Homo sapiens: one gene and its partners. The protein of the gene in region 4 purifies or fractionates together with the protein of the main gene of each other region. This does not show direct contact. Each region holds a gene or a part of one and is shown on either strand. Other genes may lie near its edges.

Region 1 (4,323 bases), on a different chromosome or scaffold from region 4:
GTCAACATGTGACAAAACTCTCAAAGCATGTCACCAATTCTGTGAGAGCAAGAATGCATCCAAGTGTTATCAATTTCACAATCACAAGTCACCAGTTGAGTTTTAAATACATACATGTTTTAAATAAAAAAAGAATTCTATAGTGGAAAGTTCTTGAGGCAATACTTATTAGTTCATTAACGTATGCATTTTCATGGAGATGTGGCATAATAACCCACAATATCAACTTAATCTGTCCAAAGAAACATTTCAACAAGTTTAGCAGTACAGAAATTCTGGTCATTTGTTTCTACTTTTTCTTCTTTGCTGGTTCTCCTGGCTCTACTTTGCGCTTTTTAGAAGTATGCTCATCTTTTTCATCATCTTTAAATAGAAAAGGAAGAGTTTCAATCAGTAATTTTAAAAAACCCAACATGTTAAGCATTAAAATTTCACTGGCTTTATACCAAAATTATTACCCTCATCAATTAATGTTTCTCTCAGAGTTTCCCAATAAAAAACAAGAATTAACTTTTAGAGCTCTGATTTTTAAATGCAAGTGAAAGTGAGCAATTTTTTTTTTCAATTGCAGCCATACAAAATTCACAAAGTAACTCTTTAGGTGCTATACTAAGGTAGCTTAAAATAAGTGACTTTACTTCCCCCAAATCAGACTTTTGAAAAAGGCTCCCAAATACTCAGCAAGCTTGTCCAACCTGCCTTATTTGTTGTTGTTGTTCTGTTTTGTTTTAGGCTTTTAGCAGCCTGAAGCCATGGTTTTTAGTTTCTGTCTCTAGTGATAAGCAGAAAAGAAGGATGATGAAGGGGCTTTATTGGCCCAACCAATAACAGAAACTAAGAACTCATGACTGTATTCTCTCCCTTGGACACCACTGCATGATAGTATTTACATTGTATATATTAAAATACAATCAATGCTTTGTAAGAATGGAGCATATTGTTTTCTTTTTACAAAAAATAGGTATCACTCTAACGATGACATTATTTAAGTGGCTATCAGCTGTCCTTTTCCTTTCAATCTGCTTTCTCTCCTCCAAAAACAACTTCTTCTGCCCCATCACCTTCTCCACCCACCCCAAATCCTTATTTTGAGGTTAAAAAGCACTCACAAGTAGGTTTCCCCAAACCTCTATTTGGAATTTTATTCTAGTAAGTTCTAATTCCCATCCCCGCCCTCCCCATCCCCACTCCCACGATGGCCAGAACATTTTAATGGCAACAGAAAAATACATATCTTCCTACTTCATATTATGGAGAATTTGGAGAGGGGAGGGAGGTTAGAGAAGAGCCTTACATTAAAACAATGTTCTTTACACCTTTCCAAAATGTTAATAGTATCTGTAGCCACAGAAAATTTCCAATTCATAAAAATGTTGTCAAACCTGGAAAAGTGAACTCTTTTATTGTATTTTAAAAAATCCAACTACATGGTTAAAAAAAAAATACAGGGTAGCACAGACTAGTTGCTAATTCCATCTCCCTAAGCAAATGTGTGGTATTAAGAACTCCATATAGACAGAGTAACATGGAAAAGATGTTATGATTTATAAAATACAAATTTATTTTGAGCACATTACTAATTAATTGTAGCTTTTGACTTTATTTTCTTGATCAACAGATACTCAAAAAGTTCAACAGGTTATCATGTGGAGATCTATAAAATATCTTGATATTGAAAGGAGCCTTCATTATTAAAAAATGTGAGGAACTACTGACATCAAATCATAAATTCCTTGAAGGAAATATTAAAATCTTAAGCCTTCAATTCCCTTCTGCTGACTGTACCATAATCAGAATATCTCATTTATTGATGCAGATAACAATCAATACCATTCATCTTCACTCCCCTTCAAGCACAGCACGGTGATGTTATTCATATGCTTCACAGAGCACTATGGATTTATGTAGGCAGTGGAATAAAATACAATTCAGATCAACTCACCCCAGGAATTTACAAATCAAAGTTTTAATCAGTAGTTCATCATGTTCATACAAAAACACTGGCTCCACAAACCAAATAACATGGTATACCACCAAAACAAGCCAAACGTTTTGCTTTTTTTTTTTTTTGAGATGGAGTCTTGCTCTGTTGCCCAGGATGGAGTGCAGTGGCACCATCTCAGCTCATTGTAATCTCCACCTCCCAGGTTCACGCCATTCTCCTGCCTCAGCCTCCCAAGCAGCTGGGACTACAGGTGCCTGCCATCACACCCAGCTAATTTTTTGTATTTTTAGTAGAGACGGGGTTTCACGGTGTTAACCAGGATGGTCTCTATCTCCTGACCTCGTGATCCACCCACCTCGGCCTCCCAAAGTGCTGGGATTACAGGCGTGAGCCACCGCACCCGGCACCTTTTGCTTTTTAACGAGTTAATTATCACTAAGCTCCTCTTTTGAGATTTTCAGTAGTGATAATATAAAAATGGAAAGTACTAAGTTTACTATAATATTCACTATGCATTAGCATACATTTAGATGATACTGAGATATTTTTGCTTTTAATTTGCCACTTATTACAAGTAAATTAACTGAATAACAAAACCACAAACTACTGAAGTTAAAAAGTAACTGGCTATCAGTGATTTGAGCAGAAGTGCTATGCCATCTAGTGTCATGACAAGGCATTGCTTTATAAACTAGAGTAGGAAAAAATCTGAGCAATGTTCATTTATCAATTTTACTGAGCTTTTTTACTCGGTCTCATATAGTATAGATGTACTGGTAAGGAAACAATTTTTTTATTATGGAACTCAAATCACTCAAGTAAGTTTAACTTATCAATAGACAAACTTTCTAAATTCTAAAAAGTGTAAACTAAAAATCACTATATTAATTATGCTTTTACAATTAATTATTATACATGTCAATAAAGCTACAACTAATAACTAAGCTTTGCTTACCTACATTTTACAACCACTAAAACCAGAAGTGGCAGGGTGCGGTGGCTCACACCTGTAATCCCAGCACTTTGGGAGGCTGAAGCGGGCGGATCACGAGGTCAGGAGATCGAGACCACCCTGGCCAACATGCTGAAACCCCATCTCCACTAAAAATACAAAAATTAGCTGGGCGTGGTGGCGTGTGCCTGTAGTCCCAGCTACTTGGCAGGCTGAGGCAGGAGAATCGCTTGAACCCGGGAGGCGGAGGTTGCAGTGAGCCGAGATCACACCACTGCACTCCAGCCTGGGCGACAGAGCGAGACTCCATCTCAAAAAAAAAAAAAAACCCGAAGGGCTGATAAGCAGCAAGACCCAATGATGAGTTCTGAACCTTTCCCAGCCCTTCCTCTAAAGTAACTGGAAGACGTTAACCGGCAATAAAAGGCCAAAGGGCAGAATGGGGAAGCAAAATAAAAAAGTCACTTGCTAATCTAAAATCTGGGTAAGAGTGTAGAGTTTCTGATATATATTTTATGAATGAAAAAGAAAGGCTAAAAAATTATGACATAATTGATTTTATAGGAATCTGAAAATCACTTCTAAAAAATGGGTCTGTTATTTGATTTTGCCTGTATTTGTTTTCCAATAAAGGACCATCATGTGATCAAAAAGACAGAAATTATCTATGTGAATAGCAGTGTTACCTGCCACATATTTGGAACTCCTTCTAACTTAACTCAAAAGCTAAGCTAGAAAAAGATAATTCTTTCTTGCTTGCTTGCCCTGGTGTATAATCCTGGTTTTTTCCATATAACTACAAAGATGTGAGAGCACCAGCCTATGGAAATCTAGTTTGAGTATCAACCCTAGTATCTTTACTGCCATTCGCCCTACAGAAGAATAGCTATATCTCACTGTTGAGAAATGGCTATTCATCAGGAGACCAAATCCCAGTTTAATAAGGCATAATTTCTATTTAAAGGTCTGGATTTGAATGCCTACTACTCTGTCTCTTCTTTAGCTGCGTGAATGAATTTGGGTAAAGTCCCTAATCTCAGATTGTTTTATCATCTGTAAAACAGTAATAATGAGTCATGTAGCACTTCTGTATCAGGTTGCTCGGAGTAATAAATTAGAAAACTGTGTGAAAGTGCCTATTTTAGAATTTGGCATTTTCTAGTTTGTGACCTTGGACAAGTTATGTAAGCTATCATTTCCACATTTCTCTATCTTATTTCACAAGGTGTTGTAATAAAGATTATTTAAGCAAATATATTTTTACTAATTATGAAAAGGAATGGCCGGGCACGGTGGCTCACGCCTGTAATCCCAGCACTTTGGGAGGCCAAGGCGGGCAGATCACGAGGTCAGGAGATCCAGACCATCCTGGCTAACACGGTGAAACCCCGTCTCTACTAAAAATACAAAAAATTAGCTGGGTGTG
Region 2 (4,958 bases), on a different chromosome or scaffold from region 4:
ATCAAAACAATGAAAATTACTTTGCCTCATACGCACAAATATATATAATAATGTGGGAAGTACACTTACAGAAAATTAAAGCTTTAATCCTAGAAAAACATTTTACCCATTACTTTTTTGCTTACCTTGCGGTAGACTACCATCAAAATCTAATTATATGCTAATTAAAATCCTAATCTTGAGCAGGGCTATTAAAAGCTGTGGGTAATTACTTAATTGGCACTATCTTCCACAACAAATTTTAAAATACCTACCTTCTAAACCTTCTCTCGTGTGTGTGTGTGTGTGTGTGTGTGTGTGTGTGTATTCTCAAAACTACATTTTTTTCATACAAGAAAAGATGAAAAGTGACTAAGAGACTCTAATGAATTCCTTTGGATTTTGTTATCTGAGTCTAGGTGCCATGAGAATGCAGCACAAGGTCAACAAAATGGCTTGTTTTAAAGACCATGACCTTTTTCTTGACGTTTTCATGTCTACAGTGTTGGGTAATCCAACCGTCACTTAAACCAACTAAATTCAACAACCAGAAAGTAAGCAAAAACACCTTTGAGTAGGTAAATGTCACAGGTCAATTCACTAATTCTCATCTACTGTATTCATCATGAAAGCGCTCTCATTCAGAAACCTATTTTCTTTTTATTTGGTAGACAATTCCACCAAGTTTGAAAATCTGGCTTCCCATGTCACCGAGAATACAAGCAACAGTAAATGACATGGAAAGATCACTAGATGAAGGCACTCTACAAGAAGACACGGCAGAAACCAAGGACGAAAATGTCTTCCACTGCAGTAGCATCACTGATTCTTGGTGTGCACGTGTCATTATTTCCCTCTCCCTGTTTTATCACTGACACTTTTGTATTTTACAGTGGTTTTCAAATGAGTTTATGGTTTTGTTACACCTATAATCTTTATCATAAACTAACATATTATTTCTGGTGAAACTAGAGGTGTTTAAAAAGTGATCGCTAACAGCCTGGCAATTAAGGAAGAAGACAGAAAATTTTTATTTATTTATTTATTTTGAGACGGAGTCTCACTCTGTTGCTCAGGTTGGAGTGCAGTGGTGGGATCTCGGCTCACTGCAACCTGAGCCTTCCGGGTTCAAGCGATTCTCCTGCCTCAGCCTCCCAAGTAGCTGGGATTACAGGTGCCTGCCACCACACTTGGCTAATTTTTTTTTTTTGGTATTTTTAGTAGAGACGGGGTTTCACCATATTGGCCAGGCTGGTTTCGAACTCCTGACCTCAAGTGATCTACCCGCCTCGGCCTCCCAAAGTGCTAGGATTACAGGCGCGAGCCACCGCGCCCGGCTGGAAAAATTATTTTTAAAAATCAACACAACACTGCAAGAGTCTGGTAGGTGGTTACTTAATTGAGAGGGAACAACCTGCGGGATTTCAGGTGCCTTTGTGTCACTGTCAAAGTACACTAACTGATGGCCATGAAGAAGAGGTTAATCTGCACTTTTAGTATGCAATTTAAAGTGTCAAGGTAGTATGTAATGTATTTCATTTTTTAAGGAAAAATTAAAAATAAAAATGGATATCCAGGAAGTTCCTGACATACAGCACCTCATTTCCCTGTCCTGGGTGGACAAATGAAGTACTGGTAGGGCAATTTCTAATGAGGCAAGAGTTGACAAATATGTAGGCATCAACTCAGTGTTTATATTATATAGCTTTTTTATTGGTCTCCCGTTTTTTCACAATACAAAATTTTATACAAAATTCAAAAATTTATACAATCTGGAAATTCGACAACCTCTCCTGCCATACAAAAGGCAGTTTGGCACTCACATTTGCCCAGTCCAGGGAATAAAAGGCACACAGACATTTCCGAATTTCACAACATTTGATTTATATTGATGCTTGGTATTACACCCACTTTTAACCAACAATATTGTCTTACTAATCCAAGTACCGCGTAGATCTTACAATGTGTATGTTTTCTACGGTTTTCATTTAGCACTACAATTGTCCTTCTGTTTAGTCAACCTTGTAATAGTAAAATATGTCACAGAAGCAACTGCTAAATTTAAAATTACTCTTCTCATTTAAGGCGAAAGGTGTTCATTTTCCTCAAAAGCTTTTCATTTGGTCGTATAGTATCATATAATGATTCAGACAAAGCCACTTGAGATCTCTAAAGCATAATTACCCACCTTTTTAAAATTGCGATATGACTACTCGTAAATAGGAAAAAATCCACACATAAACCATTAGTTATGCAATTTTATCATACATCAAAAATGCTTATGCCCCATCCTATTTTTATGTCAATTTTTCAACGTTTTATAGTTTTATTTGCATGTCTCGGGCCACACGAAATGTGCCTTATGGAGATAATACATATTTTCTGGATTGGCTTTAATATGTGTCAGAGCAGTTCCCTTACGTTAGAAGCAGCTCATCTTGGCGACGCTGAGTTTTTTAAAAATTAAAGGAGAAAAAAAAAAAAAACCTGTGTGTGTCCAGGAGCCAGCAGCGCCCACTAGGAGAGGGAGGCGGAAGCCTGGAAAGCTTGGGGCCGGATTGAGGGACCATTGGGGTGGCCCTGGAGTGAAACCCTATACCGTCGGGGGCGGGGCAGAAGAGGGTGAGGGTGCAGATGTTGGAAATTTTCCTAAGCCAGCGTCCACGGTTCCTCAGTTTGGGGGGGCGGGGGGGTACGACGCAGAGAGCTCCTTTCCTCGGGGTGACACCCCCACCTCGGCAGGCGGGGTTCAAACGAACAAGGGATGGTTTTTTTCCTGCCATCCAAAAGACCGACATTGCCAATGAAAGAAAGAAATGTCTTCCCTGTCACCCTCCACCCAGCAACCACCAGCACCTTGAAATTCAAATTACAAAAAAAGCCCCAGCAAAACCCCTTTAGCGCGAGTGTGGGATTGAAGGGCCCAGATTTCCCAGGCAGAGGCCGACGGGAAGGCGGGGGGAGAGGGAGCGAGCGAGAGGAGAGGGAGAGGCGGAGGCTTTTTCCTGCACAGCCCCATCCCCCACCCCGTTACCCGAGTTCCGGGAAGGTGGAGGGGGTCGGGGGCTGTCGAGGGGCTCCCGAGCCCCCAGGCCCCGGGAGAGCGGGCACCCCTCCACCCCGCGCCGCTCCCGCCCGCGCCCAGCCCCGCCCCCGTCCTCCAGGCGGCGAGAAGGAAAGGGGGAGGGGAGCGAACGCCAGGCGGTTCCGCCGCCGACCCCCGCACCCGCCGCCCCTAGCCCCGCAAAGCTCCGCGGGTACCTGTCGGCGCCGAAAGGTCAGGGTTTGGGCCCCTCAGAGGGGCCAGGCACAGGATTTGTCCACCACACACACACCCCCTTCCTATTTACCTCCTTCTTCTTCTCGCCCTTCTCCGTGGCCGCGGTGGCTTCGGTGGCCGCGGCGGCCGCTCCCTCCTCCTGAGAGGTGGACGGCCCGGGCTGCTCGTCCTCTATGACCACGATAGTGGCGGTCGCATCCGCGGCTGCCACGGTGGCTGCCACTGCGGCAGTGTCCTGCTCCATGCCGTGGGAGCGGGAACGAGTAGGGGGACAAGGCAGGGGACGAGGGCTCCTGGGCGGCGGCAGTGGCTGCACTGGAAAGAGCTAGATGGAGCAGGGGTGGGGAATCACTCCGCTTCCAACCCCTTCGCTCAGGCCCCCCCTTCTTTAAATAACCCTCAACCCTGCCCCACTTCCGTCCACCCACCCTACGTCATGGCCTCCCCCCGTCACTCTCCCCCCTTCCTCCACCCCCCCCCCCTCAACGATCGCGAGACTCCCCTTCCCCACCCAGAGCCCGGGCCGGCCCCGCACGACCAACTGTTGCCTGAGTGTGGGGCGCGGACAGGGGTGGAGGCGGGAACCCACAACTCGCGGCCCCCTGAAAATCTCCTTTCCCACACGCCCCCAACAGTGAGCCTGAGCTCCCCTCGCAGATGCGTGCAGAACGAATCCTCTTTCCCTTAAATCTGCTCTTTGTACCTCGGGGCGCTCTCCCCTTCTTGCACAAAGAACTTTTCCTCTGCTCCTAACTGTACTGTAGAAGGTCTTTTTCACCATTTGCAAAGCGCGGAACCCCTCTGGGACTGCCCTTTCCCGGATCCCTAAAGAGGTAGGATTAGCGGTGCTGTTTCCACCTTCCTAAATTCTGCACAAAGAGAAGCACTCCTTGAATCTCTTGATTGCAGCTGCAAACACATTCACTTACAAGGCAAAGTCTGACTCTCAAGTTTTACGTATATTTGCTCTATTTTCACCTCTGGTACCTCTCAGGTAGCCAATGTGCAGGAACACTTCTCTTACCTTCACCACTGCATTTTTAAATTCCTAGGGGACAAGGTTACCCACCGAACCTGGGGCAACATGTGGTAGGCACTCAATATTAGCAATTGAAATGAATTACTGTGATTTTTTGGCACAGGTTCTATTTGCACCTCCATTATTATTTGGTAATAATACAACACATAATATGAATGATCATGGATATAAAATCATTTCGTGATACAGAATCAATCAGTGTCCATCAGCAGGTGAATGGTTAAGGAAAATGTGGTCTGTATACACAATGGAATACTATGTAGCCATAAAAAAGAATGAAATGTCATTTGCAGCAACATAAATGAAACTGATGTTTATTATGTTGCACAAAATAAGCCAGGCACAGAAAGACAAATAACACATGTTCTCACTCATATGTGGGAGCTAAAAAGTTGATCTCATGGAGGTAGAGAGTAGAATGATAGGTACCAGAAGTCTGGGAAGGGTGTGTGGGGTTGAGGCGGATCAATGAAGAGAGGTCAGTTAATGAGTACAAATATACAGTTAGATGGAAGGAATAAGTTATAATGTTCAAAGTAGAGTAGGGTGACTCTACTGAACAAACAATGCAATGTATATTTCGAAATAGCTAGAAGAGAGGACATGAAATGTTCCCAACACATAGAAATGATAAATACTTGAGGCAATGGACACCCTAAA
Region 3 (4,323 bases), on a different chromosome or scaffold from region 4:
CTTAACATTTCTTTCCCTTAATGGGCAGAACTACACACAGTGGGGAGTAGACACACTGACAAATATATTTGCCTATACCACTGTAACTGGATTTCTAACCAAAAGAGATAAGGTACATTGAACATGCTCTGCAACCAAAAGGTTCCTGTCAGAGAAAAGGATGAACTAATGAATTTATGACACAGTTCCTATAGAAACAGGCTTAGTAAAATGTCTTACTGGACTTTTAATGAATAATTAAAATGTCAGGAAGAATGCCATCATATTAAAAATGGAGAAGGTAAAACAGAAGGAGCACAGAATTGTAGTCAGAGAACCCTAGGTTGGAAACGGTAGAAAAGCATCAGTTCTCGTCATCTCTAAAATGTGGTTTATACTACCCATTTCCAAAGGACACTGCAGACCTTAAAAGAGATAACTCATGTAAAGACATCCAGTAATGGCTCAGAGAGCATTAGGAAATTCTCAGCAAATGTCAGGAAAACAAAATGAAAGGGAGAGAAACTTTTTATCTCTCTTTTTTGCTTACTTGTTTAGCCAGGTTTCCATTGTTCTTCTTCACCCACTTTCTACTCATGTCTATGTACCCTTCTCCTACCAGCCTTTACAGTTCTGCATCATTTCCTTTGATGAGAAGTACCCACTTTTGCCTTGCATATTCCTCATTCTCTACTAGCTTGTTTAAATCAGTGAGGACTCAGGTATGCGGGCGTAGGATGGAAGTGAGAAAGAAGCTGCTTTAAAACAGTGAGGAGAGCAGGGACCTGGCTTATAGTCAATGCGTGGCAGTCTCTTCAGCGGAGAGATGGATGTTTAGCTTTTAATGGGAACACTTTTAGTTCCAAAGCTTATAACTACTGTATTATACATCAGTTTTCATTTCCTCAAATTAAGTCATAGCTCTGCTTCAAAGGAAAGTGCTTGAAGTGCTGCCCTGTGAGAGAGATTCTGTCCATATCCGAAGACTTCCACATCACTCATAGAAAAGAATAGAGTCTTACAGAAGTGGACTGTACCCACTCTACAGATAAAGTATTCCCAATGTATTCAACTTGTGGGATTCCCAAGAGTTCTTCTGAAACACTCAACTCCTCTCTGTATCCCTGGGAGACACAGCAAATATACAAACGCTCACTTACACTGAGCCAGGCCGCTGATAGCCATTGCTTGAGGCAGTGTCTAGTCTTAATCTCCTGCACATTTTCGGAGGCAGGTCTGGGTTTGGTGAAGCTTTGGGTGTCTCCTTGGAACCTACAGAAGTTAAGCTTTGAATAGATCCACTGTAGCTCTTGTTTCCTAAAAAGAAAGCCCAAGAAAATAGGCAAGGTGCTATTAGACAACATAATAGCAATAACACGTACATGTGCATAACAAAAGGAAGCATTTTTCTCTGAGCCCAAATGGGAAGGTACAGAATGTTCTTTGAGTACAGCAACCCATCACTTGGGGAGATCAAAATCTACAATAATTACAAAGACATCACTTCACAGACATGGAAAGATTCAGGAAAAATGTCACAGTGCCTAGGTTGTAAAATCCAAGCACAGGAAAAAAGTAGATAAGCATCATTAGTTTCTCCACCATTAACTTTATCCCTGCTTAACCATGCTGAATAATCCAGCACAAGTGACACTGAGACAATGACATCTTGCACAAGTTCCACTCTGCCTTACCTTCAGCTGCAGAGATGGATCTGAGAGAAGAAGCAGAAGCTCTTTTCAGTCCTGAAAGCCCATAAGGCTCTTTCTTGACTAGGTCTATGGGTGGGGAAACGTCTCCTGGGCTAGTGACTGAAGCAACACTCTGGCAGTCTGATTCTGCATCTGTCTTGGTTGCATCTTCTCTGGAACTTGATTCAGGACTAGTTGTCCACAGACCAAGGCTTTTCTGTCCATTGGAAGATGATGGGGTTGCAATCCAAGGAATCCCTCCAGATTTCTCCCTGGGCTGGCAGGAAGCTGACTTTGTAGTGCTATTTTGTTCAGAGGAATGAGAAGAGAGTGACTCAATGCTCCCCATAGGTGTGCTGTCTGGGCTGCTGCTATAGGAGTCACCTAAGGAGTAGGAGGGAGAGAGATGAAAGCAACTGTAACTATCTATTGATAACAGCATCACCAAAACCCTTCTGTTCTCCAACTTACCATGTGTTCTGCGGCCACCTGACCCCATTAAAGTGGTAGGCCCCTACCTAGTACGGAGAACTGTCCTCAGTACTGGAGAAAGGCTTTAAAATATGCATTTGAACTTGCCAAACGTATTTTTCAATGCTATTTTAGGAAGTTTATGTATGTACCTATGAACTACCTGCCTTTAGATAATAACTTTACTTCTTGAAGCATAAGTGGGTTGACTTGAATTCCCACAAAATTTGTTTATGAAACAGGATTCAGAAGTAAGAGAAATAAGATTCCTTCATGATATTACAAGGAATCAATGAAAGGGGGTATAGTAAAAACATATTTCTGCTTTCTTTTACTTTTCTGATCATAGGTGATTGATTCCAAGTTACAAAGTACTCAGCCTTCTTTCATTCAAAGGCACCATTAAATGTCAGTAGTAAATTACAAGTACCTCAATTTTCAAAGGCTTTTTTCCTTTCCTGCTAAGAATATAGAAATGTAAGAAACTGGCTATTTTGCTGGTTTTATTTCCTAATGTTCCTAAAAGCAAGTTATAAGAAAAATCAGATAAAGCATAATAATGCATTCACATATATCTAAATTAAAAATTAGTAAACTATTTTTTTAAATTTTTCTGGGTACATAATAGGTATGCATATTTGTGGAGAACATAGGATATTTTGATACAGGTGTGCAACTTGAAATAAGCACATCATGGTAATGGAGTATCCGTCTCCTCAGGCAGTTGTCCTTTGAGTTACAAACAATCCAATTACATTCTTTTAGTTATTTTAAAATATATAATTGACTATTTTCTATTAAATATTGACTGTGAGCAAAAAATTGGGGTGGGGGGTATAAAATAAAATGAGAACAGCCACAGTTTAATGTGTGCCATGGTGTCAAGATGCCACCCACATCACCTTAGGGCTTGGCTCAGAATTGTAAGTTGATGATAATGTGTGTTGTTTCTTTTTATCTTTTCTCTTTCAGACACTGATACCCAAGAGATAATGCTTTAAGAACATAATGTGAAAGGAAGGAAGAAAATGACAGCTTCAGTCAGACTTTGTCTTGCTTTCTTCTTTACCACTTTGACAATAGGACAGAACCTGCTACAAAGGAGCACCCAATGTACTTAATCACAGTTGCAGAAAAAAGGGCCTTGAGCCCTTTTTTCTTTTTTTCCTTTTTGTATCAATAATGAATTTGCTTACCCAAGCAACTGTACAACTATTGACAGAGAATATACAAATGATAAAAGAGGAGGTGTTGGGGAAAGAGCATCAGTGAGAACATCTTCTATTTCTACCTAATTACCAATACAGTGAAATACATCTGAACCAAAGAATGAAGAAAGCATCTCCCTAAGGCCGGGTGCACTTACTATCAGGTTCGGCCAGGCATGGAGTATACCTCCCTCTGGGCTTCCTAGACCCTGTAGAGAGGCAGATTGCTCGTGTCCTTCGGGATCCAGATCGAGACTGAGGCTGAGGAAGAGGAATGCTTGGGTCTGGAGCAGTATGAAAAATCTACGTATAAGAAAAATGGACCAAGGTCAATAAAAGGGTGATATTGCCACTTTCATTATAAAATAAGCTTTGAACCATATGCTACTTAATCAGCTGCAAAATATAAGTATCCTAGAGCAATTGTAACTTTTCCATTTATCTGGAGTATTCTTTCACGGGGTTTTCTTTTTTATTCTCTCCCATTTCCCAAAAGTAAAATCTAGAAGATCTTTCAATAACTTTAAGAAACCTTCCAAATATGAACAAGACATATTGATGGTTTTTATTGTAATACTCTCTTTCCACCTTCATACTCTGAAAAAACATAACCTGAGAAGAGCTGAGGCTCACTCTATATCATTTCTCCCACTGAATGGCTCCTTGCTTCTCAGGAGAAGATGCTGCCATGCTGTTGGCTCTGAGCTGCCAAGGAGTGTGGCTAGCTGCAGGTTAAGGTATGTGCAGAGCTACAGGACACAGCCATGTGCTCTTGCATTGTGAGAGAGCTTGTGCCCTTAGATAGACACTAAGGGCATGCTTCTGTGGGTGCTGGGAAGGGACCCAGGGGAGGAGAAGGCCTTAATCATTCTCTCACAAGGACCAGATCAGAGATAAAAGGATTACAAATTGTTAGACCTTAAATGGTTCAATTTGCTTAATACTCCAACTAATTCAGCTTTCAAAATTTCCCA
Region 4 (4,039 bases):
TCTACAAGAATTCAAAGAGAGAAAGAAGTATCTGGTTTTTCCCTCAAGCCTTCTCTTTTCCAGGAGAAACAACCCTACTCCTTGGGCTTTTCTCAGAGGACGTGCTGTTCTTCCTCCTACCCTCTGGCCTCATCGTGGGTTTGCCCAGGACAGCCACTGGGAGCCCGTCTACCAACACATTAGGGGAGAAGTGGCAAATGTCACGCACCGACACATCTTGCCCTGGGCTAGTGCAGGTCTCTTGCCAGGTTCCAACCCAGGACCCTAACGCTAGGGATGGTTTTAGTAACCAGCCCAGTGAGGTGGCTCAAGACTATAATTCCAGCTACTCAGGAGGCAGAAGCCAGAGGATCACTTGAGGCCAGAAGTCTGAAACCAGCCGGGGCAACATAATGAGACTCAGGCTCTAAAAAATAAAAAATAAAAAAATTAGCCAGGCGTGGTGGCATGTGCCTGTAGTCCCAGCTACTCAGGAGGCTGAAGTAGGAAGATCGCTTGAACCCAGGAGTTTGAGGCTGTCGTGAGCTATGACTGCACCACTGCACTCCAGCATGAGTGATAGAACAAGATCTCATCTCTAAAACAACAACAAAAAACCAGATTGACTCCAAGGTCTTTTCCCTCATCCCCAAGTCTTTTCTGGGGAGAGGTGGGCCCTGCTTGTATAACTCTCTCGTCTGCTTCCTCCTTTGCCTTTTGACCACTTCTCTATTACTCCTTTGCTTTGCTGGAATCCCCGCCCCCCAACACTATCACTACTTCCTCCTCTTCCAATATTCACTATTATGGGCTTGAAAGGAGCCCCGCCATTTCCGCCCCACCCCCACTTGGCCCCTGAGACTCCCACTGTTAGCCCAGGTTTCCAGAGTTGACAAGTTTTCTGTCAAGTAGGAGGGAACTCTATAATTGATCCTGTGTGACCAGAGATGTTGCTGGCAGTAGGTTCAATATGAGCTGTGATGAGGTACAGACAGTGGACAGTTCAAGCATGCAAGCTCTCCATGGAGTATTTCCCTAGAAATACGCAACCTGTGGGGATGAGGGAGTGGGTAGTGGCCCTTTTAGAGGGCAAGACAGAGGCTCAAGCTAGGAGGCTTTACTGGCTGATGGCACCAGGAAAAGGGGAGCCACTTAAAGGCTGTACTTTCCATGTGAAGGGCAGAGAGAGCCTGGAGAGGTCTCAGTGGCCACAGGTAATACAGAAGTGGAAAATGTTACCCTGGAAGCAAAAAGCCACGGGGGCTGGTATTGTCTGGCAAGATATTAAAGGGACAGGGTGGGAGGTAGGGGTGGGACACAGAGTTTGCAGAAATGGATTTTGGATGATCGACTTTTTTCCATTTATACTGAGGACCCAACCAAATGACATGATCTGCAATACAAGAGATTTAAATAGGATGTAAGGAAGAATCTGCCTGTTAGGAGGTTCTCCCTAGGTGACAAAAGATAGTAGTGGGCTCTCCTTCCTGGGGGAGTGAAATCATCTATTAGATGCTCACAAATCCAGGTAAGGAATTTAACATAGGACCAGTTTGGGATATTCAAGTTCCTCACATCCAAGTTCAGTAAAGTAGGGGGTTGGAACGGTGGTGGGGCACAATAACTGTTCTGTCCCATTCATCTCTCAGGTATCCAGCACCCTCTACCTCGGTCATTAAGAATGGAGGTTTCCTTGAGACCACACGTCTCCTTTGGAGGATGGGGCAGGGAGACACCAGTTTAGTGCCTAGCCACATGCCAGGCACAGAGCCTCACGAGGGGCACTCAAGTACTTGCAGAGTGAACGAAGGCACCCCTATGGCAGGTCCTAGAGAGCTGAGGCCTACCTTGCTCCTTTCCCCCAGTGTTCGCTGATTCTAGTGGCTGAGGGCCTTGCTTCCTCCCCACTAACTAGGGTAGGGAAGGCAGCACTACTGGAGGACTAGAGGAAGAGAGAGAAAAACTCCTTGGCCTCCCAGAAATTGTCTAGGCCAGATGATTGACTTCAGGACAATCATTGATTGGGATTTTCCTGGGCTTAGATTCTCCCCCTTCCCTACCTGAGGTCTCAAGGCCTAAGGTAAGTTTCCCAACCTGATATGTGTGGTGGATAGGGGGGTGAGCTGCGTAGCAGTATAATAGGGTCCTCAGTCCTCACCCACTCCGCAGCTCTGTCCCACCTGGCGGGCAGGGTTAGACAGGCCAGACAGGTTTGGGACTGGGGGCGGCCCCTTTATGCCTCTCTCAGCTCCAGAGGAAATGACTGCCAAGCACTGGCTAACTGTTTCTCTTGAAAGTCAGGAGGAAGCAGCAAGAAAGAGCACACTGCGTGCCCAAGCATGACTCTGTGGAGGTGTGTGTGCTCATCACACAGAGTCTGGGATGTGGCCTGGCTCCTGGCCCTCAGAACCCCATAATGGCCCTCAGAACCTCCTGGCCTCCAGTTGTGGGGCCCAGTTCTGCGCAAGGTTTCTGCACACACTTCACTAGGTCTCTGGAGGGTGGGCAGCGGCATCTACCAGGCTACGTTGGCCCAGTTACCCAGGACCAGCCCCCCGACCCCAGGCCCGGGACGCTGGATGGCTGGGTGCCCCTGGAGTGGCACAGTGTCCACACCTGGCTCCCAGGCGGCAGGGGCTGGTGTGGTGCATCTGCCGTCCTCCCCCGGGTCCCGGGTGCCCCTCACCTTGAGCTGGGACTTGGAGACTTTGCCACTCTTCTCCACGTCCAGCGCGGTAAAGGCGTACCAGATGGACTTGAGCAGTTCCTTGCGCAGGGCCATGGCTGAGGCGCCCGCCCGGCTGGGGGCGGCTCTGACACTAAGATCCGGTTTCAGGAAATGCAAACGGCTGCAGAGACCGCAGAGGTGCCGTGGTGGAGCGAGAGCACCACCTGCCTGCACATTGCGTGAGGCTCTGTGCTGTCGAGAACCCTGCCTGTTGTTCTGGCAGTGCTCAGAGGCTCCACTCCCTGCATGGGAACTGGGGACCAACTCTCCGAGAGCGGGAACCCTCGTTCTGTATCCACGTGGCTCCCGGGGCATGTGAGGCCCTTTTAGAAGCCTCCTCAGACCCGGAGGCTTCTGGAGCCTTCCAGGGCTCCCAGACGCAGCTTGCTGAGGGAAAAAGCAAGCTCATCCTGATATTGGGGTCAGACAGAGTAAAGGTCCAGTCCTAGTTCAACATAGGAGGCCTTGGGTAAGTTACTTAACCTCCTTGAGCAGTTTCCTCATTTGTAAAGCAGGAAAAATGCCTCCGTGTTGTAAGAATGTCTGAGAATGGACGTAAAGCACATAGTAGGCTCTGGGTAGAGCTTTTGGTGCTACTTAACATTACCATGGTGGTGGGACTCCATCCAAGTGGAAGGAAACAAAGGCAACATCACAAAGCTGGAGAAGGAAATGGGCCAGGGCACCTCTCCAGGTCAGGATGTGGCACTTGACTTGCTGGCTCCCTATCCCCTCAGCACTGGCTCTAAACGGTACTCAGAGCACTGCCCACTCTAGCCCCAGTAGCCCTGAAGACACTGGAAACTTCCTGAAACACATGGGGGTGAGCCTTGTGGTGCACCTCAACTTTAAGGGTCCCAGCAGCAGCAGGCTTGGGATTCAGGGCCCTCCATGTCAGTGCTTCCTTTCTTCAGATCCAGTGTCCAAAAGGACTGGGACACGCCCACACCAGGAATGGTGGTCACAGATGTTGAAGACATCTGCTCAGGCCAATTCTAAGACACCTCCCCCTACCCCCTAAGCCAAATAAAAATCCCTCCAAGTAAGGTGCTGGGAATACCTCCTGCCTGGAAGCACGCCCCCGCCCCTCTCTTCCCAAGGAGCTGGTGGCAAGAGTAAATGGGAGCTTTCTAGGCATCCTGGGAGAGGATGCCTGGATCAGAGGAGGGGGTTCCAATCCTAGGAGGCAGGAAGGGGTTGGGGCATATCCATCACAGCAGAGAGAGGAAAAGAGGCACCACCAATCCCTGCAATGTTCCTGTGTAGGCAGAGTCAAACCCAGAGCTTCTTCCCATCAAGTGCCTTCCCCTGTATCCCTTCTTCCCCCTGGAG

What was found.
Region 1: the proteins of DEF6 (region 4) and C1orf52 purify together in Homo sapiens (affinity purification with mass spectrometry; 3 studies listed by BioGRID and IntAct, with this or other methods). This does not show direct contact.
Region 2: the proteins of DEF6 (region 4) and SMARCA1 purify together in Homo sapiens (affinity purification with mass spectrometry; 3 studies listed by BioGRID and IntAct, with this or other methods). This does not show direct contact.
Region 3: the proteins of DEF6 (region 4) and ARHGAP42 purify together in Homo sapiens (affinity purification with mass spectrometry; 3 studies listed by BioGRID and IntAct, with this or other methods). This does not show direct contact.

The regions. Positions count from the first base shown.
Region 1 is NC_000001.11:85,252,340-85,256,662, forward strand, and holds part of C1orf52 (UPF0690 protein C1orf52), read right to left. Parts: intron 364-4,323; coding exon 290-363; 3' UTR 1-289.
Region 2 is NC_000023.11:129,519,868-129,524,825, forward strand, and holds the start of SMARCA1 (SWI/SNF-related matrix-associated actin-dependent regulator of chromatin subfamily A member 1), read right to left. Parts: upstream 3,624-4,958; 5' UTR 3,504-3,623; coding exon 3,330-3,503; intron 1-3,329.
Region 3 is NC_000011.10:100,973,788-100,978,110, reverse strand, and holds part of ARHGAP42 (rho GTPase-activating protein 42), read right to left. Parts: intron 3,653-4,323; coding exon 3,508-3,652; intron 2,055-3,507; coding exon 1,674-2,054; intron 1,297-1,673; coding exon 1,140-1,296; intron 1-1,139. UniProt on the Homo sapiens protein: May influence blood pressure by functioning as a GTPase-activating protein for RHOA in vascular smooth muscle.
Region 4 is NC_000006.12:35,296,579-35,300,617, reverse strand, and holds the start of DEF6 (differentially expressed in FDCP 6 homolog), read right to left. Parts: upstream 2,801-4,039; 5' UTR 2,762-2,800; coding exon 2,666-2,761; intron 1-2,665.